Linked DNA regions of Homo sapiens. The protein of the gene in region 1 purifies or fractionates together with the protein of each later gene. This does not show direct contact. Each region holds a gene or a part of one and is shown on either strand. Other genes may lie near its edges.

Region 1 (5,297 bases):
GACCACAGTTTCCCTTTCAGTCTCATCCTTTGTAGACACACCTATGTCTAGTTTTAATTTTATTCATCAGGACTTCTTTTCTCATTATGAAAGTTAATCATGTTTATTGTGGACAACTTGCTTGAAACATAAATGAACTATAAATGTAAGAAAGGCACGAAGGTCTTTTTGCTGTAGGTTTTCTCTTCCTCCTGGTGCCATCCCCATCATTTTTGTGTAGAAGTCGCAAAGCTTCCTCTGTTCCCTGTTGCCAAAACTAAAAGAGTCAGTTTGGTTTTTTGGTTCACCCGAGAAAAATCTAAGGGGCCTGTTTTATTTACAATGGGAAGAAATGTGAAAATTATCTGAACTCTTTTCACTTTCCCACACCATTCCTAATTTGAGTAATAATCGGCATCTCAATAACCCTGAGAGTTGAGGTGTAATGATTTTCTAGGTTTTGGACTGGGTTGTCCTGCTATGTGGGGTGACAACAGTAAAACCACAACAAGTAAAAAGAAATCCTTTTGAATTAAAGATCAAAAAAACTAATGCAACGAGCAACAGTTTATTTATAAAAAAAGAAAAAAACAAACAACTTTTTAACGACATTTTATAGATTAAGTAAAAATACCAGTATTAATATATATGTATATACATAGTGCATATATATATATACATATGATATAACATTAACATTACATGCTTCTCAGGACAGAAGAATTAGGACATGTTCCCTCCTATCAATTTAAAACTCGATCACAATTTAAAATCATGGAAGAAAACTTGCTTCCTTTATTTTCTGCTTTTAGACTTCAAGTACAGGAAGTTATGAAACCAGGATCTAAATGTGGAAACCATCTGCTATGCACCAATTATAAGGGACTGCCACAAATGATGAGTCAGGGGTCTTCTGAATTCTTACATAGGTCTCTGTAACCCTACAACTGTGTCAACCTTCTACCTGAGATGAGAGGGAATGATGAAGCATGACAGTGTGTAGGTTTCATGTGGACGTTCACATTGACATTGGAACAAAAGCAAACGGAAAAATGTCTTCCTAGAGCAACAACACTGATCATAAAATCACCCTGGAGGAGGATTCCCTTCTCCCCTTTCCTTGCCAAACAAAACAGAAAAACTGTCAGAAAACAATACAAAACAAAACTCAGGGTGAAGCACCTCTGGCGATGATCAGCATACAGCAAGGGACAGAGAGGTAGCGTTTCCTTGGTGACAGCTCCTGGCTGACTCCGATGATTTCAAACACACCCTCTTCTGCAAAAGGCACTCACATATTGTCTGTTTATAAATCATACAGTGGGATTCCATACATGGGAGTTTCTCCTACAAATATAAAAGAGATAAGCTGAGGAAATGGTATAACAAAGAAAAGCGTATAAGAAATACACATTTTGGATAAATATGCACTTTTCTTTTTTAAAGGACAATCAATATAGTAGTTAAAAAAAATGTCATTGAAAAGTTAGGAATTCCAGCAAAATTATCAGTAAGAAGCAAGGTACTGGAGGATGAGAGATGGAGTCCAAAACACTGAGAGGAGGTACACTAGCTTTTCAAGCGGCCAAAGTAAAAGATCTGTTCTGCTCTTAAACTGCAATGACCATCCACAGACAACGGAATGAGACGGGGAGGGAGGTAGCGGCAGAGAAACAGGTCAAGCCGGAGGGAGGAGTGGCATCCCCCTGGCTGTGGGTGCAGGAAGAAACACCCTCAGCATCTCCAAAGGGAAGGATGGGCTACATCACCCCCTTGCTTCTGCAGTCCAAACAGACCCTGCCCAAGCCAGAGGCTGCCCTCACCGGGATACAACAGAGCTAATGGAATTGTAAGAGGTGCCGCTGTTGCAGCTCGAGGCATAGGCCTCCTGGCCATTGCCATCCAGGTTGATTTTGAACACAGAGGATGCCTTCAGCAAAAAGTCTGCGGCATCCCGGCGACCCAGCTCCCTCAGTTTGGACATGAGGGTGCCCACTGTGCTCTCAGGGTAGGTGGTCCATTCCCGCAGCAGGGCGTGGAGGGGGCTGGGGAGGAAATCCTTGGGAGCCCCGTTACTGGTGTTGTACTTTGCCACGAGGTCAGGGAGGCCTAAGTTCATGGCGAGAAGGCACCAGTCCTTCCCCAGGGGGTCGGGCGGGTCCAGCAGGCGACTCAGTTTCCTCCGAGTGAGGAGGTTCAGGTCTGATGCATGGATGTCCATGCCGAGGCTGGCCTGTGAGTAGACGTCGTGACACCCGAAGCACATGATGCTGCTGAAGCTTTCCTTGTACCCCCCCATGGTGTTGGTCAGTGAGGTTTCCTTCAGAGTCTGTGCCCGGAAGAAGTCCCGTGGCTGGTAGATCATGACGGGCTCATGGTGCTCCCGCAGCTGCTGGGGGCTCAGGTAATGCTTCACGGTCAGGAGCCCTGGCAGCGTGGTGGCCATGACGTTCTCAATGGTGCTGCACACCGAGTCCAGCAGCAGGCAGCACTTGATCTTCTCCGTCTCCAGGCCGCGGACCTGGACCTCAATGCCCTGGCCGTGGTTGACCAGCAGCACCAGCAGCTCGGCCCCACGGTTGGCCAGCTTGCAGCCATTCACCCACAGGCGGATGTCCGCGTCGCCCTCTGTGCTTTGCTGGTGGATCCACCGGCACAGGTTCACCTGGACCTTGTGAAAGATGCCACATGGGAAGGGGGTGAGGTGTTCCACGGGCACGATGCGCACGCCACCATACACCATCACCTCGTCCTCCTCATCAGCCCAGGAGCGGTGCAGGTTGTCTGTCTTGATCAGGGCTGGGACGTCCACCATGGTCCCGCTGCTCAGGTCCCGGGCGCAGATGTCCATGGCATCGAGGATCTGCAGCAGCTCCTCCACGTCGCTGTCGGGCACCAGGCGCTGGATGTCCTCCACGGTGTAGCGGCCCCGGTAGTGGTGCAGCGCCCGTGGGGTCTCCACGGACAGCAACTTCCCCAGGACGTTTGTGCAGAGCCAGCGGGGGTCCAGGAGCAGCACGTCCTGAACTGTTTCACTTTGCATGATGTTGATCTGCGGGGGGACAACAGAAAGTCACGCTTAGGGACAGAGCCCTGGCCAGGTGCACCAGCCACTTAGAGCACTAAAGGGCCTGATGCCGGCAACAGAGGCTGAGCAGATGCTCTAAGGAGTGACCCAAGGCCATTCCACGTGGATGCGTCTCAAAAACCAAACACCGAGTGGAGAAAAGCAGCTTGAAAATGTCAGAATAGAGATTCTGAAAAACAACTCCCCTGAAGTCTTCAAAAAGGCCAGCGAAATGAAAGAAGAAAAAAAAATGGGAGATGGCAACCAAATGCAATGAGTGATTTTAGACTGGATTCTGAATCCCAAAATAAGTACATAAATAAAAATAGCTTTAAAAGAAATTATTGGGACCAGTGGCAAACCCTTGTATGAGGATGATATATTCAATCATAGTACTATATTAATGTTATGTTTCTGGAATCATCAATTATATTGGGTTATGTGGGAAAATATCCTTCTCCTTAGGAGATATAGGCTAAATTATTTAGGGAAGAAATGTCATCATGTCTGCAAAATAAATAAGTAAATAAATAGAAAGGAAAGGAATCGAGCAAATGTAGCAAAATGTCAACAACTGATCAGCTTAAATGTAGTAGGCTGGGCACCGTGACTCATGCCTGTAATCCCAGCACTTTGGGAGGCCGAGGCGGGTGGATCACTTGAGGTCAGGAGTTTGAGACCAGCCTGGCCAACATGGTAAAACCCTGTCTCTTCTAAAAATACAAAATTTAGTTGGGTGTGATGGCTTGTGTCTGTAGGCTGAGGCAGAATCACTTGAACCCAGGAGGCGGAGGCTGCAGTGAGCCGAGATTGTGCCACTGCACTCCAGCCTTGGCAACAGAGTGAGACTCTATCTCAAAAAAAAAAAAAAAAAAATTAATTAATTAATTAAAAAAATAAATAAATGTAGCCTATATGAGAGTTCATGGTACTATCCTTGCAACTTCTCTAAAGGCTTGAGAACATTTTCAAAAAAGAGTCAGAACATTCTATTATTATACCATTATGTGAATGTTTAACACACACACATAGAAAAGGCCTGAAAGGATATGCTGCCATGATAATAGTTGGCCTCCGAGAAGGGGAGAGAGGAGTGAGACCAGAGATGATGGCCCAAGGGGACTTTAGCTTTTTGGTTGTGTTTATTTCTTAAAAAAATAAAAAGAAAGGAAAAAAAAGTGACAAAAAACAGAAGGAACTTTCCCTTTATGGAAGAGTTCTGCTTCCTTTCTTGGAGAGTGGCCATCGCCCTGGACTCCCTCACTTGGAGGCTCTGACCCCACCGGTGACCACACAGTAATTTCCTGCCCACAGTCTGGCTTAAACCTGAAAGATGCCCCCTGTCTAAGAGTCTATTCAGAATTGAACCTAGGTTGAAAATTCCTGGAGGGCAGAGCCAATATTGATCTAGTTCCTGATACAGCATTTGCTGGAATACCATTTGCAGTTTGGTCCTAAACACTGCTCATCGCCTCAGGCTCAGGAAAGACGAAACTGTCCCATAGTGGAGGAGAACAGGGAGCTAAGACAGTCAGCTAAACGTAGTGTGGGACCCTGGGCCAGAAAACAGAGTCAGAAGGGCCACTGGGGAGTTCTGAAGATCTGCAAATTAGATACGGAAGGCAGGTCTGGAGGAGGCCCGGGGCCAATCAAAGTCGGGCCACACAATGTAGTTCCTGCTGCCTAATTACCCTCCTTCTTTACATCTTCATTTACTTACTAAACTCTCAAGGGCAAGCAGGGATGTAATGACAAATAAAGGAGACTATATGATATGATCTAGAAAGTTGCTGGTCTACTACTAGAAAGCAAGGGACTCCTGTGCCAAAGGAGTTTAGAATTAGAATTGACACATTTTTTACATCCAGCAGTATCTTGTCATCTAAGATGTGGTCCTTCACCTGTGTTCTTCCTTGGATTCAATCACTTTAAAGTATTCCTGGATGAGTTGGCAGATTCTCTGGCCATTTAACTGGGAGTTTAAAGGCTGATGAAATTACTGCCCGGCGACTCCAGTTTTCAAGGTCACTGGCTTGTGGATTCAGGTTTAGTTTCAAGAAATTTGTATGACTCATACAAACTGGCTATAGGGCCAGACCTGGCACCTGAGATTGGGGAGGTAAGCATCTGGCTTTTAATAATCTCAGAGCTGCTTTTAGTTGCAATATTCAGAACCGCTCTTCTTGGCCCACACTAGTTCATGTAGGCTCCCAATTTCACATGGTGGAGAAACACGAAGGCACTGCCCCCG
Region 2 (7,029 bases), on another chromosome or scaffold:
AGAGAGCACTGCCCCATCTCGGGGGCAGACCCCGCTCGGCTCCTCTGTTCTCGACTGAGAGCCTGACACTGACAACTGGGTAGGCCCTAGGAGAAGCCAGGCTTGGCCGAGAGCTCAGGCCCAGAGATCTGGACATGGCTAGTCTCACAGTGGAATTGCCTGGCCCCAGTGTTTAGTCTGTATTAGGTTGAACCACATGAAAGGCTGGTTAATTCAACCCTTTTTTACCTAGGAAAATGGCAACTTCATATGGTTCAACCTAATGGAGGGAGGGATTCTTACATTTATTAAGGACCTACTGGACATTCAGTCATTCATCTAACACCTGTAGAGCAATGGCTGTGTCAGGGCCAGTGTGTAACACTGCTTCAGCACCCCAAGACTGAGAGCCAGGATTTTTCATCTTCCCTCCTAAGGATAAGAAACAAACTTACCAGGCAGAACAAGGGTAACCAACTCGATCTGCCTGAGCTCAGGTAACTACTAAAACAGGCCAATTTTGGCCAGGCATGGTGGCTTCACGCCCATAATCTCAGCATTTTAGAAGGTCAAGGCGGGAGGATCCCTTGAGCCCACAAGTTCGAGACCAGCCTGGGCAACAAAGTAAGACTCTGTCTCTAAAAAATAAGTAGATAGATAGATAGATAGATAGATAGATAGATAGATAGATAGATAGATAGATAGATAGGCAGGCAGGCAGGCACTGTGGCACATGCCTGTTATCCCAGCTGGCAGGCACTGTGGCACATGCCTGTTATCCCAGCTGCATGAGAGGCTGAAGGGGGAGGACTGCTTGAGCCGAGGAGGCTGAGGCTACAGTGAGCCAAGATGGAACCATGCACTCCAGCCTGGGCAACAGAATGAGACCCTGTCTCAATCAATCAATCAAACAGGCCAATTTTGTCTTTCCTCTCAGAATCCCTGCATCTTACACTGTATATGGTGACCAGGGCTGGGATGGGGCTTCATAGGAAAAAGCCAAAGGATCCTGCAAGGCTTTGTCACCCAATAGTCCCCATGGAGGGCTGTCGCAATGATTAAGATGTGCTGCTGCCACTCACGTCACAGGCAGGAAGAGCCAGGGACACTGACACTACTGCACAAAGAACCGTCCTGTCCAGTAGGCCAAGCCACACAGTGGCCGACGCTAGGCTAAGACTATCTCGCCCTTTCAGCTGAGTGGCTATCTTTTGGAAAACAGATTGCAGTTCACAAAGTTCCATCTCCTTGCATTTCAACAAGTGGAACCAAAAAAACCTCCTAAACAAAACCCAGACCTCTTCAGCCACTGTGGCTAGACGTACAGGGGAACCTCTCGGCCCCAGTTTCCTCATCTATAAAATAAACATCCCCATGGGCTGGTGCCAGAGAGGCAGGAGAGGGGAATTCCATCAGCATGCGCTGAGTGCGGTGGACCTGGACCTCCATGGCAACTGCCATTAACTAGCTGGGGGCCCTTCAGCAAGTTACTACACCTCTCTGAGCTCCGGTTTCCTTATCTGCAAAATGAGGAAACAGACCTCACAGGGTTGGTGTTGAGAGAATTACAGACAATGACTGTGGGCATCCGGTAAATACTGGCAGAAGGAAGGGGCCACTCTGTGAGTGAACACTCAATACCAGCCTACAGACTGAAGGTATCCTTCATTTCATGGCATCCCCTGATGCCTGTGCCATGAGTGCACTCCTCAAGACCAAGAATGGACTCTGCTTAACCACACCCCAGCCCATCCTCTCTGCCTGAACAAGGTCTCAAATCTCAGGACAACCAGGGGTCCACACCACCCTGTGCCCAAAAGAGATTTCAGGATAGAAGGTGTCTGGAGGGTATACACTGAGGACATGACAACAGCTCACATTGGAAATTCTCAGCAGAGGAACTAACAGCCAAGCCTGGCCGCTGCTCTTTTGGAGTCTGAGTTCCTCAGTGTCTCAAGACTTTTCACACCAGAAGGATGTGGTGGATTAAGGCTCCTCCTTCCAGTTTCTGAGCACAAAACTGCAACGCAGGGAGCCCACTCATGTGAAACCAACGACAGCCCATCAGGGTCAAAGCCTCACGACGGAGAAGCCTTCAGCAGCAACACTCTACCTGCCAATCACTGCTGCAACTGAGAAGGGAAAAGGGCACCGGTACCACCGGAAAATGCCACTGGCTCAATTCTAATTGGAAGCTCCAGCAGATAGGGTGCAATGCAAAAGCATCTTTTCATAACTTTTTTTGAAAGAAAGATGGGGTCTTACTATGTTGCCCAGGTTGGCCTTGAACTCCTGGGCCCAAGCGATCCTCCCACCTCAGCCTCCTGAGTAGCTGGGACCACTGACACACACCACAGCACCTGGTTTAACTTTCTATTTTAAGTTAAAGTACTTCACTTGGTAAATACGATGCCTGAATCCACTTACTAGGGCTCTGAGACAGCAAGCCCAAACACTGTTAAATAAGATACCGAGCCTAACTCAGGAGCATCATGCTGAGTTCAGCACTAGAAGAGGAAGCTGCACAGAGCAATTGAAGCAGAGGGTGGAGAAGTGCGGGGTCTGAGCCAGTGGTAACAACTGCTTCCAAGCTGCAATGTGGTAAGAGCTCTTGAGACCAGAAACCCTGGGCTGCTGTTTTCAGCAGTCTGGTGTTTAAACAGAATGAGCCCCTTAAGACCACTCTCCTTGGGCAAGGGACTCTACATCTTGGAGTCTCAGAAGAAGGAACTAGCACCTGCCTTCCAGGCTGGTTGGGAAGTTAAATGAAACACCACCTATCATCCATCCATGTTAACAGAATAACCACAATAATAAGAGATAACACTCCTACTGCACTTACAACGTGCCAGGCATCGTCTACACTTTCCACACATAAACTCAGTCCTCACAATCATCACTACGTGCCAGGTGAATGGCAACCACCAGGGTTGTTGCCTTACAAGACACGTGACGACACAACTGAAAACCTAACACTAGAAAGTTGTAGGCAAAGGCTCCTGTTCACAAGCATCCAGAGATGTCAGAAACATGTGGGGTGACCATAGGAGGAAGCACGGAAAAACGCAGGCAAGCAGCCTCCCTGCCTGTCTGACGCTGTGGACTTCCCCAGGCTGGTTCTGCACTCACTCCTGAGTCTTTCAGAACTTTGGACATACTTGCTTCCACCCGCTTCCTCCATTTAACCTTAAGACTCAGATGGCATATTCTATTAGGTCTACCTGACTGCTCAGTAGACATCCACGGAATGAATGACCCGATGGAAAAAAATCACTAAAGGGAGCATAGCGCAGTGCCAGGACTGCCAGGTGGGCCTCGGTTTCCTCACCTGCATAATGAGGGTGACATGAGAATCTGCCTCGTAGGGCTGGCTGGAATATTAAAAAGTCATCAGTCAAAACTAGCTCCTGGCCAAGTACAGTGGCTCATGCCTGTAATCCCCAGCACTTTGGGAGGCTGAGGCAGGCAGATCATGAGGCCAGGCGTTCAAGACCAGCCTGGCCAACATGGTGAAACCCTGTCTCTACTAAAAATACAAAAAATTAGCTAGGCATGGTGGTACGCACCTGTAGTCCCAGCTACTTGGGAGGCTGAGGCAAGAGAATTCCCTGAGTCTAGGAGACGGAGGTTGCAGGGAGTCGAGATCGTGCCACTGTACTCCAGCCTAGGTGGCAGAGCGAGACTCTGTCTCAAACAAACAAACAAAAAAAAACTAGCTTCTGTTATTCCTACAGCTGCCATGCAGAGCCCGCCACCCCACCATCTCCCTCAGCAGACTGGTGTCTTAGGCACCAGAACCTAATGCTGTGTGCATCAGGCTGAACTTGGTGCCACCTGCAGTCACAGAGTCACTGGCTGGATGGATCACTGGGCTACCCAGACTGAAATCCCCATTCAGTTGTTAACAGGCTCTCAAGGCTTTGCAGACACCACTATCTAGGATTTAGACTGACCTGAAATAGCTGTGTGTCAATGATAAACTGTCCAATCAGAACACCTACATGGGACAGCTCTGGGGCAGACCCCCTCAGCTCCAGAGGTGGTAAATCATTCCGTGTCACTCTGCCTTTATCTCCTTCCACCATCCCTTCCTTTCCACACCCACAGCTGCACAGTGGCCAGGACCCTCATAAGCTCACAAGCTGATGCTTGTGGAGGCCTCTCTCCCATCTCTTTCACCTCCCAGGCCTCCTGCATGCACAGCCAGAGGGCTCTTCCTAAAATACCACCGCTCTGCCAGCCTCCTCGAATTTCTACCTGCCCTGTCAAAAATTTCACTGGCTCCACACTGTCCCAGATCTAATGCAAACTCCTTAGCTTAGCAACTCAGGCACTCCACAACTCACTCCTGAGACTGAGGCACCCCATGGGCTCGCATCTACTGCTTGTGTGACCACACCCCCTGACCTCTGCTTTTGTGCCAGTCCCCTTGACCATACCCCACCCTGTCCTCTCTGCCTGAGCACACTCTTCCCAGGCTTCATGCCCAGCCCCCAAGCCGACTGCAGGCTGGAGTGGTCTGCAGGGCTGCGTGGAGGAGGGGGAAATGCAAGCCAGGCCTGCAGGGATGGGCAGACCACAGCACCCATGGGTCCCTGGCTAAGTCTTTTCTAGTACTACTTCATTCCTGCTGCACTTGGCTTTTTGGACGCATCTTGCCTCCCCCTCCCAGATTAGAGGACAGGGATGATGGCTTCTATTTGTGTCCCTTATTCTGTGGTATGCAGAATAAGACATGCAACAACCACAGCTACTGTGTGCCAAGCACTGGAGTAAGTACATTACAAATTTCACCCCTACTCCCCATCTCTATAAAATGTTATCCTCATGCGACGGAACAGGAAAACTGAGACCAAGGGAATTAGCCGCCTCACTGACAGTCACATGCTGAGTGGCAGACAGGACTCAAATCCAGATGTGCCCAACTGCAGAGACCATGTTCTGTGGAGCAGGCAGCCGCCTCTCAGCTCTCACTCAGTGTTTATGTAGCTGGCGCTAAGTGCCAGGCGGCCAGTGCAAGGTGTGGGGTACTCAGAGGGAACCAAACAGACAAGGTCCCTGCTCTCACAGAGCTCATATGCTCTGTCCCCAGCCCTGTCTCTCTTCTTCCAAGCCTGGAAGAGGGCAGGAACCCTCCAGTCACAGGGGGTTCCACTGGCACAAACAAGGAATTCGGGCCTGACATATAGCATGAGGCTCTGGCAACACATGGTGCCCAGCTCACAGTGAGCTTGTCTTTAATGGAGAAAAGAGCCCCAGGCTCTATTAGGTAAGTTGTGCGTTCAAGGCACAACCCAGAGCCAGACAAACTCCAAAGCAGCCATCGGCAGGCAGTACGGAGTGGAGAAAAACGGTTTGCTCTGGAGTCAGAAAACCCAATTCCTCCACTTAGTAGCTAGACAGGGACTAACCATACACCCCTTTGCACACTTTTGGAAAATGGTGATAATAACAATAGTTAATGTTTACATCACTATGTGCCAGATGCTACTGGATGCACTTGACAGATATTACTTAACCCTCATTACGACCTTATGCAGAGGTACTGTTATCCTAAAGCAGTCTGGCTCCTAACTCTATTTTCTTGTACTATGCTGCCTCCAGCCTAAAGTTGAACCTACCTTGTCAGGCTGTGGTGAGGACCGTTCTAACAGAGTGCATAGCATGTGGCTGGTGCTCCATAACCATTAAACCTCCCTTTCCTTCCACTGAAACATGAATCTGTGAAAGCCTAGGTCTGGAAATAGCATATGGCTCTAGCTGGTCCCAATATGGGTGATCTTGCAGTTGCATCCCCTGGAATTCCACACCGCACCCTCACTGGTGGATCTGCTGCAAGGGGAAATGGGACAAGATCCTGTATTTACGGGGCCCTCTGCTCACTGTGTTCTGGAAAACACAGTGAGTGGGGTCCAGCACATGACTTGGGCTGACAGGGATCCGAATCCCAGGCCTGCTGTTCACACCGGTCACTCAAGCTCTCAAGCTTCAGGTTCCTTGTGAGTAAAATGGGGGCTGGGCTATAACCTAAGTCATGTTTCTGGGTCACAGCAGATCCTCGGGTACCCGGGTTGGACAGGCTGGACAAAGCTACCCAGGCTGGACTTCCAAGGTACTGTAAGGTTTCATTTCGGGGCCCCAGAAAGCCTTGGCTGTGCAGAGGAGCGGACTGCGTGCACGTGCAATCCAATTCCACCCAATGGCAGACACAAGAGAAGACACACCCCAAAAGGCCTGGGAGTGGAGCCTGGCACAAGCCCCCAGCTTTCTCTTCAGTTTCCTGCCATAGCTCATGCAGATGTGCCTGCAGGTACACTGAACAAGGCTCTTTCCCCCTTAAGCTTTAGGTAACGATGACATCCCCACCCCTCAACAATGTGAGCCATGAGGGCAGAGATCCTTGTCTTGCATCCTCAGCACATAAGCACCACAGAGTAGGCACTTAATACACAAAAAGCTGAATTAACATTATCCTGTAGCTGCAGGTACCCCACAACATGCCTCAGTATTTGCCTAACAATAAGCATTTCCCAGCCTGGAGGGAGGGCAGGCTTCTAACGGGCGAGGCACCTGCCCTGCCACCATTTCCCTGTGGTCAGTCATGTCCTGTTCCCCACCTCATGGAATGTAAAAGTATAGGATGTCTGAGTTATAAATAGGAGCATCTGCTTTCAAAGACACGGCTTATCATTTCCTTAATCTCAAGCCACTGATCACTGCCTACTTTTTATAAGCATGCCACCAAAAAGAGGCCAGGTGGGCTTAAATGAACAGGGCTGTATAGACAGACAAGAGGGATGTGAGTTGAACAATGTGTCTTATCCACATCAAGAGACATTAATGTCAACTATGTTGTTTCACCTTGTAACAATACCAAGTTCCCATCAGCTCCTGCCAGGCAAAACCATCTGTGAGCTGGAGCAGCAATTCCTGAGGGGGCCTCCCTAGTCCCCGTTCCTGCTAAAGCCTCACCATCATCATAACTAAGAATAATTCCCAAGTCAGAAACTGAAGCTGTGTAAGGAACGGTGCTCTGAAATTGTACAGCAC
Region 3 (7,792 bases), on another chromosome or scaffold:
TCAACTCCTCTCTTCCTCTATAAGGTGTTTTGGAGTCAACCTAAGGTATCTCTCTCTCTTCTGAACTTCCAGAACAATTTCTATAATTACTTGACAAATAATCACCTAAGCTTTATAAGGCTTTTATCTTCTCTTTCTTTTCCTTTCTTTTTTTCTTTTCTCTCCTTCCTTCCCTTCCTTCCTCTTTATCTGTCTCTGTCTCTCTCTCTCTCTTTGTGTCTCTGTCTCTCTCTGTTTTCTTTCTTCTTTTTCTTCTAAGAGACAGGGTCGTGCTCTATTACACAGGCTGGAGTACAGTGGTGTGATCATAGCTCACGGCAGCTTTGAACTCCTGGGCTCAAGCAATCCTTCTGTCTCAGCCTCCTGATGTTGTTTTCTTGAACTATTCTTTAAATCAATAGAAAATTCCACCTTTCTCCAGGTCTTCATTGAGATGTCACCTCTTCGAGAGGTAAGCAGCACATCTTGTAGTTCTTTGGATACTCCTAGCTTATCTCCTAGAGTACCTTGCACACAGTAGAATTAAATTGCAGCATTCGGCCGGGCATGGTGGCTCACACCTATAATCCTAGTGCTTTGGGAGGCCAAGATGGGAGGATTGCTTGAGGCCAGGAATTCAAGAACAGTCTGCTCAACATAGCAACTCTAAGGGCCCATCTCTAAAAAATATAAATATAAATATAAATAAATTGCAGCATTCTCTTCTGTACACATAGGAGTTGTTAGGCTCACCTTAGTAATCTATTTTGAGATTCAAACTTCACACTTAAGAGACTTAATGCTTTAAAAAAAAAAGCAGAAATTCTAAGTGCCTTCCCTCAATTTACTTTTTAAAAACCACAAGAGTTTTAATTCTATTACAGAGGAGTAGTCCTACAAACTAATGTAGCCCTGTTAGACTCTATGCCTTCAATTTCAAATTCTGAAAATTCTGCAAAAGCTCTGGCTAAGCCCATGTATTTGCTGGAGGTGAAAGATGGAGGTTAAAATGAAAGGCTTCATATTCAACTGTTACTACATGGTCTTGTATACAGTATGTACATAATAAATGTACCAATGTCTGAAAAACTGAAATGATTATAACTGAGAGTGACAAAATTATAAAGGCATTTCTCAAAGCACACAACTTATTTCCTGTGGGGGAGAGGAGTAGAATCTCTTAATTTAAAACAACCTTAATCTATGAAATTGCTATGTAACTTACCCCTTTATCTATTTTATGTGCACTTGGGAAAACTTAAAACAGTTTTACTAATATGGATTTGCCAGGCACTAATCTTTGAAGTATGTATACACATATTATTAATAATTCATTTAACCCTCAGGACAACCCCAATCCTACAGACGGGAAGACTGAGGCACAGAGAGGTTAAGTAACTTGCTCAAAGATCACAGCAAGAATGCAGTGGAACTAGAATTTGAATCTCAACAGTCTGACTCTTAATCACTATGATAATGGGTATTGGTTATAGCTGATGTAGAGGTATATCATTTTGATTAATATTTGGGGTGATTTCTATAAAAGTTGTACATCCAAACCTTGATCAGAAATGTAACATCCTATCATTATGCTGGTATGTAATCAACCTGATTGACCCCTGTCAACTGGATTGACAGGGGTAGTTAATAATGAAATTAGGGTTAAGCACCCAAGCCTAGATTATGACTTTCACTTTATAAGCTTAAGGAATGATGTTTAGCTATAAACCTTAGAAGAAATGCAGCCAAAGCTTGCAGGGAAACATACACACGCACACCAAAACTCAGCTATTTTGAAATTCCACTTACTTTAATGTTTAAGTCAAACTACTTTAAAACTGTTTACATATTACTCTATCAAGGGTGAAATAATCGCATGTAAAGGGCTTTCTAAAACAAATCCACATCTTGGAAGCCCATTTTGGGGCGTTGAGTTGTGACTACGTTCTCAAGGATGTTAATAACACAAGAGCTCCATCCACTAACTCCTTGAAAAAAACCAAAACCATGAACGTCTTGTCAAATTCAGACAGTTTATCTTGGCACTGGCAAGTACAGCAGTCTCTTCGATGTCTGGAAACGTGTCTAATTACGTTTAGAGAGTAACTAAAAAAATAGCCAGTGTCCCGGAACAGACAGCTCAGGGATCACTCCATAGCATCCTGAATGACAGGATGGAACTACGCCAGGAGGAAAAAAAAAAGAAGGGCGAAGAAAGAAAGAAAAGAAGCAAGTGTAAAGCCGGGATGAGACGCCAGCCTCTCTCCAAAATAATCCTCCAGTCCTCCTAGGGCCTTCGGGGCCACCGCAACTCTCGTTCAAGTTATTTCCCTTCAGTTTCCATGAGGTCACCGGCCCGCCCACATCCCTCACCTGGCGCGGGGAAGCGCGCCCTCCCGCGCGGCACACCCTCTGCACCTAAACCCCGGACAGCGCCCAGGGCTCCCCTCTCAGGGAAGCGCGGCCCTTGAGCTCGACACGCCCCCCGCACCCCAAAGCGGCCGCACCCCAGGGGCGTCCGCTCTCGGGAAAGCGCAGCCGCGGAGCTTGGCAGACCCCCGGACACCGCAGCCCGGCCGCGCCTCCATCCCTGGAGCTTGGGCGCTCCCGACACCCCGGATCCGGCCGCGCCCCGAGGCGCCCCCTCTCGGGAAAGCGCAGCCTCGCGCCCCTGCGCGCGGCCGCTCCGCCCTCACCTGAGCCTGAGGTTGGCCATGAACTCGGGCATGGAGACGGTGTCCATCAGCACGAAGTCTGCCTTGCCGAATTCCAGGCTCTCCTGCTCCGCCATGGCGCCAGCGCGGGGGCTCAGGTGGGCGCGCTCGGGCCTCCGGGGCCGCTCCGTGGGCCCGCGATGAGCTCGGGAGGGGCCGGGGCGAGGCCGCGCCGCGAGGCTACGGGGAGGGGGCGCGCACGCCGCTCGGCGGGTCCGGGCCGGACAGAGGCCGCCTCGCTGCTCCTCGGCGCCTTCTCGGCCGGCGCGGCTCCGAACGGGACGCACCCGACAGTTTCCGCTCCTCCCGCCGCGGCTGCCGGGCGCTGTAGGGGCCGGGACACCGAGACGGAGACGGCAGCGGCTGGTCCCGCCTCCAGCCTGGGGCTCGTCCCGGCTCCGCCCCGCCCGGGCCTCCCGGCTCCGCCCCTCCCGGCCCACTGAGGAGCCCGCCCCAGCCGCGGCCCTGGCCGCCGCCTCTTCACCTGGGCGGCGCGCACGCGCGGGTGGGCGGCGGGGACGCGCGCTGGGCCGGGCGGCGGCAGCTGGGTGGCAGCGCCCCCTGGGGACAGGCGCTGGGATCTCAGGCGGCCAAGAGGATGGCCGCCTGCCGCCCACACTTGGTAGCTGCCAACAAAGTTAGAAAAGTAGTTCGTGGAGCTTTTCGCGAGGACAATTCATTATGATTCTGTCACCCTGCTCCAAAACCCACTCCCGCCTCTCTACTCACACCCTGCCCATTCTTGAAGTGGTGGTTCAAGCACAGACTGAGAGGTAATAATAATGGCTAACATTTTTGGGGCACCAAAAATGCCCAGAGCTGTTCTCAGCGCCTTAGAGAACTTTTAAGAAACTTGCCATACGACTAGGAAGTGGAGCAGCTGCGGTTTCACGCAGGTCATTTGACTTAGGAGCCGCAGCGTTCAACCACGTCTGACTACCTCCATTCTTCAGTGGCCCATTTTCTCTTCCACTCATCCGAGCATGTCATCAGACATTACCTTATATGATTATTAAGTTTTTAATATATCTTTGTATCATCTCTCCAGGATTATTGCGGATGTCTTGAGCATGGGACCATTCTTTTTGCATCCACCAAATAACTATTGTACTACTTTGCATATATAAATATGAAATCCATACTGGTTCAGTGGAATGAAGTGAGTTGTAAGTAGTCTCCAATTTATTGATACATTGGTTGAGCTTGGAAAATTCTTTTTGAACTCAATGTATTTTCCCAAAGAAAATATACTACAAATGACTTTCTTTCTTTTTTTTTTTTTTTTCTTTTTCTGGAGACAAATTCTCCCTCTGTCACCCAGGCTGGAGTGCAGTGGTGCAATCACAGCTCACTGCAACCTCAAACTCCTGGGCTCAAGCAATCCTCCAGCCTCAGCCTCCTGAGCAGCTGGGACTACAGGTGTATGACACCATGCCCAGCTATTTTTTTTAAATAAATGACTTTCTAAGGTATCTACATTTATTCAGTCCTGTGTTTCTGTTAGGACATCTTCTATTACAAAATCTACGAGGAAATCTAGAGGCCTCCAAGGACCTGGCTGGGCTTCAACTCTGGCTGAGTTTGAGATGAGTAAACCAGACTGAAGGACCTTGCCCAAGGCCTGCTTCAGCTGCCAGCCACCCACACTTGCTAAGAGAAAGGAAAGGAGCTTTGTCACCTCCTGAGGGACTGCCTCTGCCATCAGAAAACCACCCCAATCCCTGGCACCAGCAGAGCTGGGTTGCATCTGACTACCGTTAGCAGCTGTCCTTCAGAAGGAGGAGATCCACCTGTCTCGATATCAGTGTCCTCATTTGTGGAATAAAAGCTCTGGAATAAGGTAGGACTGTCCTATGGTTGGGTCATTTGTGGAGGTGTCGGTCAGTGGCTAAGTAGGTTATTGCATAGGGTATGGTTGTATTCCTAATGTTTGTATTGGCATGTTTTAACATAAGCAGAACTGAACTTCAAGAAGGAAAGAAAGAAATCTCAAACTGTATGCACTTTGGAGCATCCAGGGACCACACCCCAAAACCTTTTGGTAAATTATATATGTGTGTTCCCTGAGCTCTGTAGGTGTTAAAAATTAGGGCAAAATCCCAGGTACCAGGAAAAGAAACATCACGGCTTGCAGATGATGAGAGAGTTGCAGAAATTGTACAGTGGTTAGGAGCTATGGTGGGATACAATGTGGTTTCCAAATGGCCAAAGTAAGAGATCCTCATTTTAATCAACATCTTATATAGGAACCCAACATATAAAACACATATACAACATATGCAAAGGGTATTTTATTAATTTCTTGTATAAGTCCAAATTAGTATAAAATTAGGCATTGATGCTCTCATGATGAACCCAAATCTGCTCAATGGGGCTCACTATTAGCCTCAGGATTCCAGTTTACTTTTGTATGTTGTTTTCATTGTACTGTGTCAAGCAAATTCTTGTTTGTATAACTAAGCAGTAATTTGTTACCCATACAACTTTACATTCAGCATTTCTAGGCCAATGTGCAGTTACAACATTATTAATCAATGACACACTTGAGCAAAGTTCAGGTATATGCACAGCCGGCAGGAGAGACTGAATACTCTGGTCTGCATTCAGTCAAGGTAACCTAGAGCAGATTAGCTCATTATGAATGTTCTTTGTGATAAAATTTGAATAGAAACACATTTGGAGATGCATGTTTTTGTTACAGTTTAAAATATACAAAAAATAAAACAAATAAAAGTTTATATCCCCAATCATGAGACACACAGACACCATGAGCCTCCTGATATGGTCTCCTGAAAAAGACACATATCATTTACCTGCTAAAAATACGTAAATGGAATCTAATCATGAAGAAGCATCAAACAAACTCACATTAAGGGGCATCCTACAAAACAATTGACCTGTATTCTTCAAAAATATCAATGATGTGAAAGACAAAGAGGCTGAGGCACATCACTATTAAAGGCAATGGGTGATTCTGGACTGGATCTCCAACCAGAAAAATGTAAAGGACATTGTTGGGATAATTGGTGAAATTCAAATATAGACGCGATGTTAGATAGTAGGATAGTATCAATGCTAGTTTTTCTGAACTTGATCATTTTACTGGGATTCTGCAAGATAATGTCCTTGTTTCTAGCAGGTATCTGCTAAAGTATTTAGGAGTAAAATGATGTCTCGAACTGTTTGGCAAGAATAATAAAAATAATAAGATGAGGAGGTGGAAGGAGGGCGTGCATATATATTGGTAGACATATAAATGATTAAAGCAAATGATGCAAAATACTAACAAGTGGTAAAGTCATTAAAAATATATGGGACTTTTGAGGGGATTTTCTTTTGTACTATCCTCACAACTTTTCTGTAACTTTGCAATTAGTTTGAAATTTATTCATTTATTTTGAGACGGAGTCTTGCTCTGCCGCCCAGGCTGAAGTGCAGTGACACGATCTCGGCTCACTGCAACCTCCGCCTCCCGGGTTCAAGCGAGTCTCCTGCCTCAGCCTCCTGAGTAGCTGGGACTACAGGTGCATGCCACCATGCCCAGCTAATTTTTGTATTTTTAGTAGAAACGGGGTTTCACCATGTTGGTCAGGCTGGTCTCAAGCTCCTGACCTCATGATCTGCCCACCTCAGCCTCCCAAAGTGCTGGGATTAGAGGTGTGAGCCACCACACTCGGCCTGAAATTTAAACTTAAAAATTAAATAGTAATCTAAAACTGTGCTAAATAAAAATTTTTAATTTAAAAATATTAAATAACACTTAGAAATCAAAGTCACATCAGAATTTTGCAAACCTTCCAGAACTGAAGAACCAGCAGATATTTTTGAAAACCCTGGTCCAGGGTACCTCTTAGCTCTATTTGGCATAGATGTGCTAGGAGATTATAAACACTGAACAGGTAATTCTAAAAACAAAAATAATTAGATGTCAAATATACCCATATGCCCCTGAGAAGGTGCATCCTGTTCTCTGCCTGAAGTTCTCCCCGCCACCCCACCCCTCACTCCTATGACCTAGCTAACTTCCGCTCATCCCTCCGCTCTCAGTCTCAACATCACTTCCTCCAAGAAGGCTTCCATAATCTCCTGAGTCAGAATTGGCTGTTCCTCCTCTGTGCCTCCTGCAGCATCCTGGAAGTGCTGCCCCCATTACAGTACTAAATGCCCTTGAGCCTACTGTCTGTCTCTCTCACTCGTTTGTAAGGGCCATGAGGGCTGGAAGCTGTCTTTTCTGGTTTTTGATGTAAATGTAATTCTGGCACCTCCTAGCATAGTGCTAAGAGATGAAGTGCTTAATAAACTGTTGCTTGATAAATGAATATGGAATGGTCTGTGAACCTATGGGTCATAAAATGTGAGACTGTAAATCCACCCCCCTTGGTAGTTTTCTGCATTGCAAATTAGTCATTGTACAACATTAACCTCAGTCTCATCTCCTGCCCCGGAAGCAGATCTCAGGGCTGTGTTTATTTCTCCCCTGGGACCAGGCCTGCACACTGTGTGTTCACACTGAACAAAAGCTACTGTTCCAAAAACCCTTCTGTAGTTACCAGCCACTGCAGAGGGTCTACTCTTGATGATCCACGAAAATCAACCCTGAATTTTCCACCACAAATGTTTATTCCCATTCAACTTTCCCAGAATGTTTCTGGGCTGCCCTGCCCTCCCTCCCTTTACCAGAGGCTTTGCATCCAAGGAAGACAACTCTTTCAGCATGAGTCTGGCAAGACAGAAATAAGACAGCTAGGAAAAAAACAACAACAACAATAGTCACACAGCATATTCAAAGGGCATTTTATAAATTTATTTTATAATCCCAAATTATCACAGAGCAGAAGTAGAAAGGCAAACATATGTTGCAAAATAACTTCATTACGTACTTACAGCCATATAGAAATGATTTGGAACTCTGCCTTAGAAAATATCCAAAACATACCTCCTCCTCTTTACTGCATGAGCCTGGATTTGAACTAAGAATGATACATCAGAAATAGCATATGTACTTTTCATGGCTTCTGAAGCCAAAAAATTCTTTAAGTATAAAGAGACCTGACAGTTGCCTCTCTGATGTCATTAATGACTTTTACCCACCTGTAGAG
Region 4 (7,029 bases), on another chromosome or scaffold:
GGCAGGCTGCACAGCGCTCCTAGCTACAGTGGGGCTAGGAAGTCTCGCCATTACAGGGTGGGTGCCCCCAGAACACGAAGCGGGGATAGGTTCACTTTAAAAGCAATTGCCAAAGAGGAAACATTCATAAGGAGAGAGAAGAAAAGAAGCATTAAGGACAGCATAGTTTTAAATTCAGAAACGTTAAATCAAAAATTTTAACAGAATATTTTGCTAATTATTTTTGGGGAGAAAAAATCACGAAAGAACTTCAAAAGCAAATACAAACTCAGGAAATAAGAGATAGTGGCTACCCAAAGCAAATGGGGTAAGAATAGGTGTTCAGAGCTGGGAGGATTTACTCTGTCTTGAGAATACATGTCTTGGTGTAAAAAAAATAATAATTCAAAAAAGCAAATATTAGCTATCAAAAAATCAGTAGATTATGTCTGTGTTTTAGAATATTGTTTCCAATCTAATTTTTTTCTTTCTTTTTCTTTTTTGGAGATGGAGTCTGTCTCTGTCACCAGGCTGGAGTGCAGTGGCATGATCTTGGCTCACTGCAAACTCCGCCTCCCGGGGTCAAGTGATTCTCCTGCCTCAGCCTCCTGAGTAGCTGGGATTACAGGCGCGCACCACCACGCCCAGTTAATTTTTGTATTTTTATTAGAGATGAGGTTTCACCATGTTGGCCAGGATGGTCTTGATCTCTTGACCTCGTGATCCACCTGCCTCAGCCTCCCAAAGTGCTGGGATTACAGGTGTAAGCCACTGGGCCCAGCCTTTTTTTTTTTTTTTTTTTTTGACAGAGTCTCACTCTGTCGCCCAGGCTGGAATGCAGTGGCGCGATCTCGGCTCACTGCAGCCTCCACCTCCTGGGTTTAAGCATTTCTCCTGCCTCAGCCTCCCGAGTAGCTGGGATTACAGGCGTGCGCCACCATGCCTGGCCAATATTTTTGTATTTTTTAGTAGGGACGGGGTTTCACCATGTTGGCCAGGCTGGTCTTGAACTCCTGACTTCAGGTGATCCACCCACCTCTGCCTCCCTAAGTGCTGGGATTACAGGTGTGAGCCACTGCACCCGGCCTCAATCTACTTTTTAAAAGTATCAGTGTTCTTATACAATCTATAGGCACATCAAGGTAGATTTATTGAGCCTTAAAATGGGATTAATTTTTCTTATATTTACTGTTTTGCTCCCATGGGTATCTGCCTGTTATTTTACACCAGCCATTCAAATATTTCTTTTTTTAAAAAACAAACTGATTTGCAAAGAGTTCCTAATGAGTGCAAGGATATACTTAGCTACAAATGCACCAAGAAACTGAGGAACAACTCGGGGAGGAACTGTAGGCAGCTGATCTAACAGCAGGTCTACAGAACGGGGCACTGACATAGAGGCCTTTTGGGATGTCAATAACCTAATGGGATGAACTATTTTTTTTTCCAGGAAGGGTGTCTGTGTGTCCAAGGTAAGCACAAAACCAATTAACAACATCAACAACAACAAAACTAGGCTGGGTACAGTGGCTCACGCCTGTAGCTCCAGCACTTTGGGAGGCTGAGGTGGGAGGATCGCTTGAGCCCAGGAGTTTAAGATCAGACTGGGCAACATGGCAAAACCCCATCACCACAAAAAATACAAAAATTAGCCAGGTGTGGTGGTTGGGCCTACAGTCCCAACTACTTGGGAGGCTGAGGTTGGAGGGTCAATTGAGCCCAGGAGGTTGAGGCTGTAATGAGCCAAGATGGCGCACTGCATTCCAGCCTGAGTAACAGAGTGAGACACTGCCTCAAAAAAACAAACAATGCCCCCCGCAAAAATAAGAAAATTTTTCACTTGATTGAAGCAATGATCTCTGAATGAACTACTCTGGGAAATTAATTCTGAATATATTGAAACATATTATTCAAAACAAACTTCCTATTGTTTGGAAAGTTATCAAACTGCAATTTAATTTTTAGAAATTTCTGGCAATTAATCCCAGCACTTTGGGAGGCTGAGGCATGGATCACCTGAGGTCAGGAGTTTGAGACCAGCCTGGCCAACATGGTGAAACCCCGTCTCTACTAAAAATACAAAAATTAGCTGAGTGTGGTGGCACATGCCTGTAATCCCAACTACTCGGGAGGTGGAGGCAGGAGAATCGCTTGAACCCAGGAGGCGGAGGTTGCAGTGAGCCGAGATCATGCCACTGCACTCCGTTCTGGGTGACAGAGCAAGACTCTCTCTCAAAAAAAAAAAAAAAAAAAAAAAAAAAAGAAAAAAAGAAAAGAGATTTCTGGCAATTAAGAACAAAACAAACCTTATCTTTTAGAGGGGCGTACTGGGATATTTATGGATGAAATGGTAAGACCTCTAGTGTTTGCTTGAAAATAGCACAGGAGGAAAGGGGAAATGAATGGCACACGGGCTGAGCATCACCGGCCAGGAGCGGGTGACCGTGGAAGCTGGGGTTTCATCACAGCAATCCACCAAGTTTCATGTTTCTATTTTCCGTTGTCAAAGAGATTTTTAAAATATCAATATGCAGAGACAGAAACAAAATAGAACAAAAACTCCTTTCAAGTTTTTCTAGAAGATACACATCCCATTACAAAGTTTAGAGAGACCACAGTAAACAAAATCCCTTAGTACTAACTTCTCTGTGGCTTCTAGCTAAATCACCTCCCCAATGCCTCATTTTCATTGAACACTCTTTAAATGTATTTTTTTAAAAAAAGACACTATAGACAAGGCTGAGAAGTCCTGTGGGCACTTACGTGGCTGCGATGACCACCTCTTCAGTGGTGATGGGCTGGGTGAGGGACCTGTCCTGCAGACGGCGTAGCCTCTGCTCCACAGCTGTGTTTCTTGAGCGTCGCTTTGGAACATTTTGTTCATCAAAAGATTTTTCCATCTCCTAAGATTAGAAGTATTGTGGAACCCTTATAAATTCAAGGAAAGAGCTGGGCACGGTGGCTCACGCCTGTAATCCCAGCACTTTGGGAGGCTAAGGAGGGAAGATTGCTGGAGGCCAAGAGTTCAAGACCAGCCTGGGCAACAAAGTGAGACCCCCTCATCTCTACAAAAAATGCATAAATTAGCCAGGCATGCTGGCACAGGCCTGTAGTCCCAGCTACTTGGGAGGCTGAGGTGGGAACATCACTTGAGCCTGGGAAGTTGAGGCTGCAGTGAGCTATGATCACATTGCTGCACTCAACCCTGAGTGAGAGAGTGAGACCCTATCTCTAAAAAAAAATTAAAAATAACAAAGAAATTCAAGGAAAGGAAATGGGGGTAGTAAAAATTCTTCACTTTGTTCTCCTACAGGACCTACAGGAGGGGTCACTAATGAGCACCTCGTATTGTTGTCAGAAGTGTACACTCATGCTGTGTCCATGAGGTGGCCACAACCAGCCAAAGATTAGGAAGAGAACAACAGGTGGGCCAGAGGCAGGAGGGCCTTAGCATGCCCAGAGGTGCATGAAGTAGGCTGGGTCCACAAGATTCCCCCTCCCTAAGGCTTACAATTTTTATTTTTTTTGAGATGGGGGTCTCACTGTGTTGCCCAGGCTGGTCTCAAACTCCTGGCCTCAAGTGATTCTCCTGCCTTGGCCTCTCAAATAGCTGGGATTACTGCACCCAGTAGGGATCTCTATTCAAGCACGTCAGCACAGCTTACCCTGAAAAGCAACCTCTTGGCGGCGACGCTCAGCTTGGCTCGTTCATCCACCTTTTCTTCATCTGCAAAAAGCCACAAATTAAAAACTGGACATCATTAGAGAAGGTTAAGTTCGGTCTCCAAAAAGTCTTTCAGGGCTGACCTGGAAATCTTTGAATACAACAATAGGTGCACTAAAATAATAATTGGTGGTAGTTTCCCCTTGCAGGGAGCCCATTCTTTCTGCTCAGTGAAAAGGTACTAATTTCCCTTGCAATTCAACCCAGCCAAACCAAAGCAAACTCTGTCCAGGGATTTCTACTCTAACGTTTGTCTGATCGAGATTTCATGAATATATTTTATGGGGGGAATTTCTTTTAGTTTTAAATAGTAGCAGCAGCAACAACAAGAAGAACCTGCTCCTTTGGTTTGAATTAGTTGTTTTTACATTGGTCACTGTATGATTCTCTAACTGCTCTCAAAAAGAAGGGAAAGCTTGTCTGAAAATTTCAACTAGATTTTATCATATCCACAGAACGAAAACCTGCAGCAAAGGGAGACACTGTTATGCTCCATCATCTTACTCTCTCAAAAAGCCAAAAACCTTATTATTAAATCCAGTCTAGATGAGATAATAAAGAAGAAAAAAAAGGGAAACAGGTACTTGCCATCGACAGTTGGCGTTTCTGAATGTGAAGTGCACCTAGGAAAGACATTAGCAAATAACAATAATACATTAGCAGGTGGGAGCAGAAGATCGAAATAAAACATCATACTGAAAGTAAAAATAAAAATGCAATTAAATTCTTTTAAGAAATAACCTCCTGGTAGCAATTCTAGTTGTGAAAACACACATACAGTTGTGAAGCAACACTGTGGAGCGTGTGTGCACACAATCCCAGCCAAGTACACACCCCGTGGAGAGAGACCAGGCACAAGAACAACTTGTTAAACACCACTGATGACAATTTTCCAGACAAATCTTACCATTTCTATGCAATAGTATATGACACTTCAGTATAAAACTCAAATACAACAAGTAGATGGACATTTATAAAATGAATATAAAATTCCTCAGTTATTTTCACTGTAAAATCTGGTGAATATGCAATCTGGAGTCTAATTTAACAAGGGGTAAAAAACATTAAAACCATTAAATAAAGAAAAATAATGTTTCTTACTTCTTATCATCTGAATGCAATGTAAAATTGTGTATGTATCATAATACCGCTGTAAAGGCTAATATTCTTTAAAAAGACTTTTAAATAAGCCAAATAAATAACGCTTATAGGTTAGATGGAACAATTATGGAATCGCCAACATCCTATATAAATAGCGTCAAGACCGTCAGTGTGGTAAAACTCCTGTGTCATTGCCACGTTCCTGGATGAGGAAACTGCGCATACGCATGCCTACCTATCCGATTCCTTTCGTTCTGCTGAAGTTATAGGTTGGGTTCTAAATCTCTCGGAAGTTTTTCTACTTTCACCAGGAGAAAAATAGCGTCTTGGTTTCCGGGACCCTCTCTCCCGTTCCACACCGGTGGGCAAGCCAGGTCCTTCAGCCGACCTCTCCACCCGTGATTTGCTTTGAGAATCAAAGGGCAGAGAGTATAAGGAAGGCAAACGAAGACAGAGAAAGAGAAGATGGCAAAGGATTATGCATCTCCGTGAGTCAAGGGACAGACACCACCAAACCCCTCTTCATGCCTCTACCATGCACGTAAGGAAGGAGACATTCCAGACACCCAATCCACTAGTTCCCCATTAGTAGGCAGAAGCAGAGTGGTAGTTTTTGAGCCATTTTCCGCATAGTCGCCCTGCACGCACTTGTGAGCTAAGCTAATATGATTCAATGCAGAACACAACACAGGTCGAGGAGTGAATCATTCTGCCAGGGACGTGCAAGTGACACAGCTGGAGGGCGTGTGAAGCATCACCTACAGTTCAGGTCTCCTGCAGGCGTTGGCAGATGCCAGGAACGCACTTCGGAGCTGGGCGACAGAGACTTTTGTGTCCAGCATGCTGATCTCCCCATAAGGCCCTTCGGTCTTGGAGCTGGGCAGCTCCAGCTCTCTCCTGGAAGCTGGGTCCTTATACTTCAAGGCCTGGAGCTGAGGGGGGCCTGTGAAATCTGACAGAGAGCGGGTACGGACCTTGCGCTTTTTCGAGGCTTCCCTGTTGTGACCAGTTGGTTTGGCGTCTTGGGACACAGGCTCACTTTGAATGTAGAGAACCATCTCGCTCCTGCCTGTCCTCTCAGTGGGCTGGTGCGGAGCTTGAGGGGGTTGTGCCACGTTTTCCAGTTCCTTCTGATGCTCTAAGGTGACTGTGCTCACAGCAGGCTTACCAAAGTCCTCATTTCTAGAGGGATCTTCTGGGCTTCTCACTAGCCCATCACCCTCCAAAGCCAGTAGGGTTTTCTTGCTTTGCTCGAGAGCTTCAGTGAAGCACACATCTTCTTCTTTTTCTTCTCCTTCTCCTTCCCCTTCTTCTTCTTCTGCTTTTGACTCGCAGACATGGAGAACTGGGCTATCCCTTCCGTCACCTTCTAGAACCGTCAAGCTGGGAGGTTTGGGGACATTCTGGGTGGCTGATGCTACCCAGCTACACTCAGATGCATTTTCTGGGGTTTCTGGCGTCACTAGCTTGGCGGTGTGACCGGTATCTGCGGGTTGGACATAGCCACGGATTGGCTGTCGTGTAGAGCCTGCTGCCTTGCTGGGGACCCTATCAAAGGCTGAGTGCTCAGACTGAAATGACACGTAATGGACTGGCGCTGGCTGGTGTCTCCTCTGAGTTACGGACTCTGAGGCGAGTTCAGGGCTGTTTCGAGCACTTTCCTCTTTCACCAATTTTTCTCTAACTTTAACTCTTTAAGAAAGAAAAAGGATTTAAGTTGCAAAGTGCAGTAACGGCCTCACAGGAGGAAAGCATGCGTAGATCACAGATTACCAGTGAATGGAAACTGACCTGAGAGAGAATAACTTGTGAAAAAGCATTTTGGTGTCTAATGTCAACTACTTGTCAGATGATCCTGAGTTGAGTTTCCAATTTGCATATGTATGCCCAGGAGGTGCAAAACTAACTCTACCCCTGTAAAAGCTGGCAGGGGTCAGATGCTATCCTGGGGGAGAATGGGTCCCTTCTGACTAAATAAATACCCAGAAGCCACAGAAAAATGCGTTAATATCCACCACCAGCATGCATTAGGGCATAATGAGCCTGGTCCCTTGAATCAGTAAGCTTTCCTCATGTACACGCCCAGAACACGGACTGTGGGGGAAGGTTCCTGGCATACAGACACCTATTGACCAAACGCTGTAATTTCATTGTCGTCTGAAAATGTAAGAGCACTCACGATTATTTATGCTTTTTATTTAGTTCAAGATACAACAATCACCTCT

What was found.
Region 2: the proteins of DAPK1 (region 1) and CAPZB purify together in Homo sapiens (affinity purification with mass spectrometry; 2 studies listed by BioGRID and IntAct, with this or other methods). This does not show direct contact.
Region 3: the proteins of DAPK1 (region 1) and MYO1D purify together in Homo sapiens (affinity purification with mass spectrometry; 2 studies listed by BioGRID and IntAct, with this or other methods). This does not show direct contact.
Region 4: the proteins of DAPK1 (region 1) and SVIL purify together in Homo sapiens (affinity purification with mass spectrometry; 2 studies listed by BioGRID and IntAct, with this or other methods). This does not show direct contact.

What each region holds. Positions count from the first base shown.
Region 1 is NC_000009.12:87,703,866-87,709,162, reverse strand, and holds the end of DAPK1 (death-associated protein kinase 1), read right to left. Parts: intron 3,032-5,297; coding exon 1,799-3,031; 3' UTR 529-1,798; downstream 1-528. UniProt on the Homo sapiens protein: Calcium/calmodulin-dependent serine/threonine kinase involved in multiple cellular signaling pathways that trigger cell survival, apoptosis, and autophagy.
Region 2 is NC_000001.11:19,475,540-19,482,568, forward strand, and holds part of CAPZB (F-actin-capping protein subunit beta), read right to left. Parts: intron 1-7,029. UniProt on the Homo sapiens protein: F-actin-capping proteins bind in a Ca(2+)-independent manner to the fast growing ends of actin filaments (barbed end) thereby blocking the exchange of subunits at these ends.
Region 3 is NC_000017.11:32,874,103-32,881,894, forward strand, and holds the start of MYO1D (unconventional myosin-Id), read right to left. Parts: upstream 3,023-7,792; 5' UTR 2,771-3,022; coding exon 2,676-2,770; intron 1-2,675. UniProt on the Homo sapiens protein: Unconventional myosin that functions as actin-based motor protein with ATPase activity. Plays a role in endosomal protein trafficking, and especially in the transfer of cargo proteins from early to recycling endosomes.
Region 4 is NC_000010.11:29,526,963-29,533,991, forward strand, and holds part of SVIL (supervillin), read right to left. Parts: intron 6,497-7,029; coding exon 5,567-6,496; intron 5,211-5,566; coding exon 5,040-5,210; intron 4,327-5,039; coding exon 4,292-4,326; intron 3,707-4,291; coding exon 3,645-3,706; intron 2,883-3,644; coding exon 2,743-2,882; intron 95-2,742; coding exon 1-94.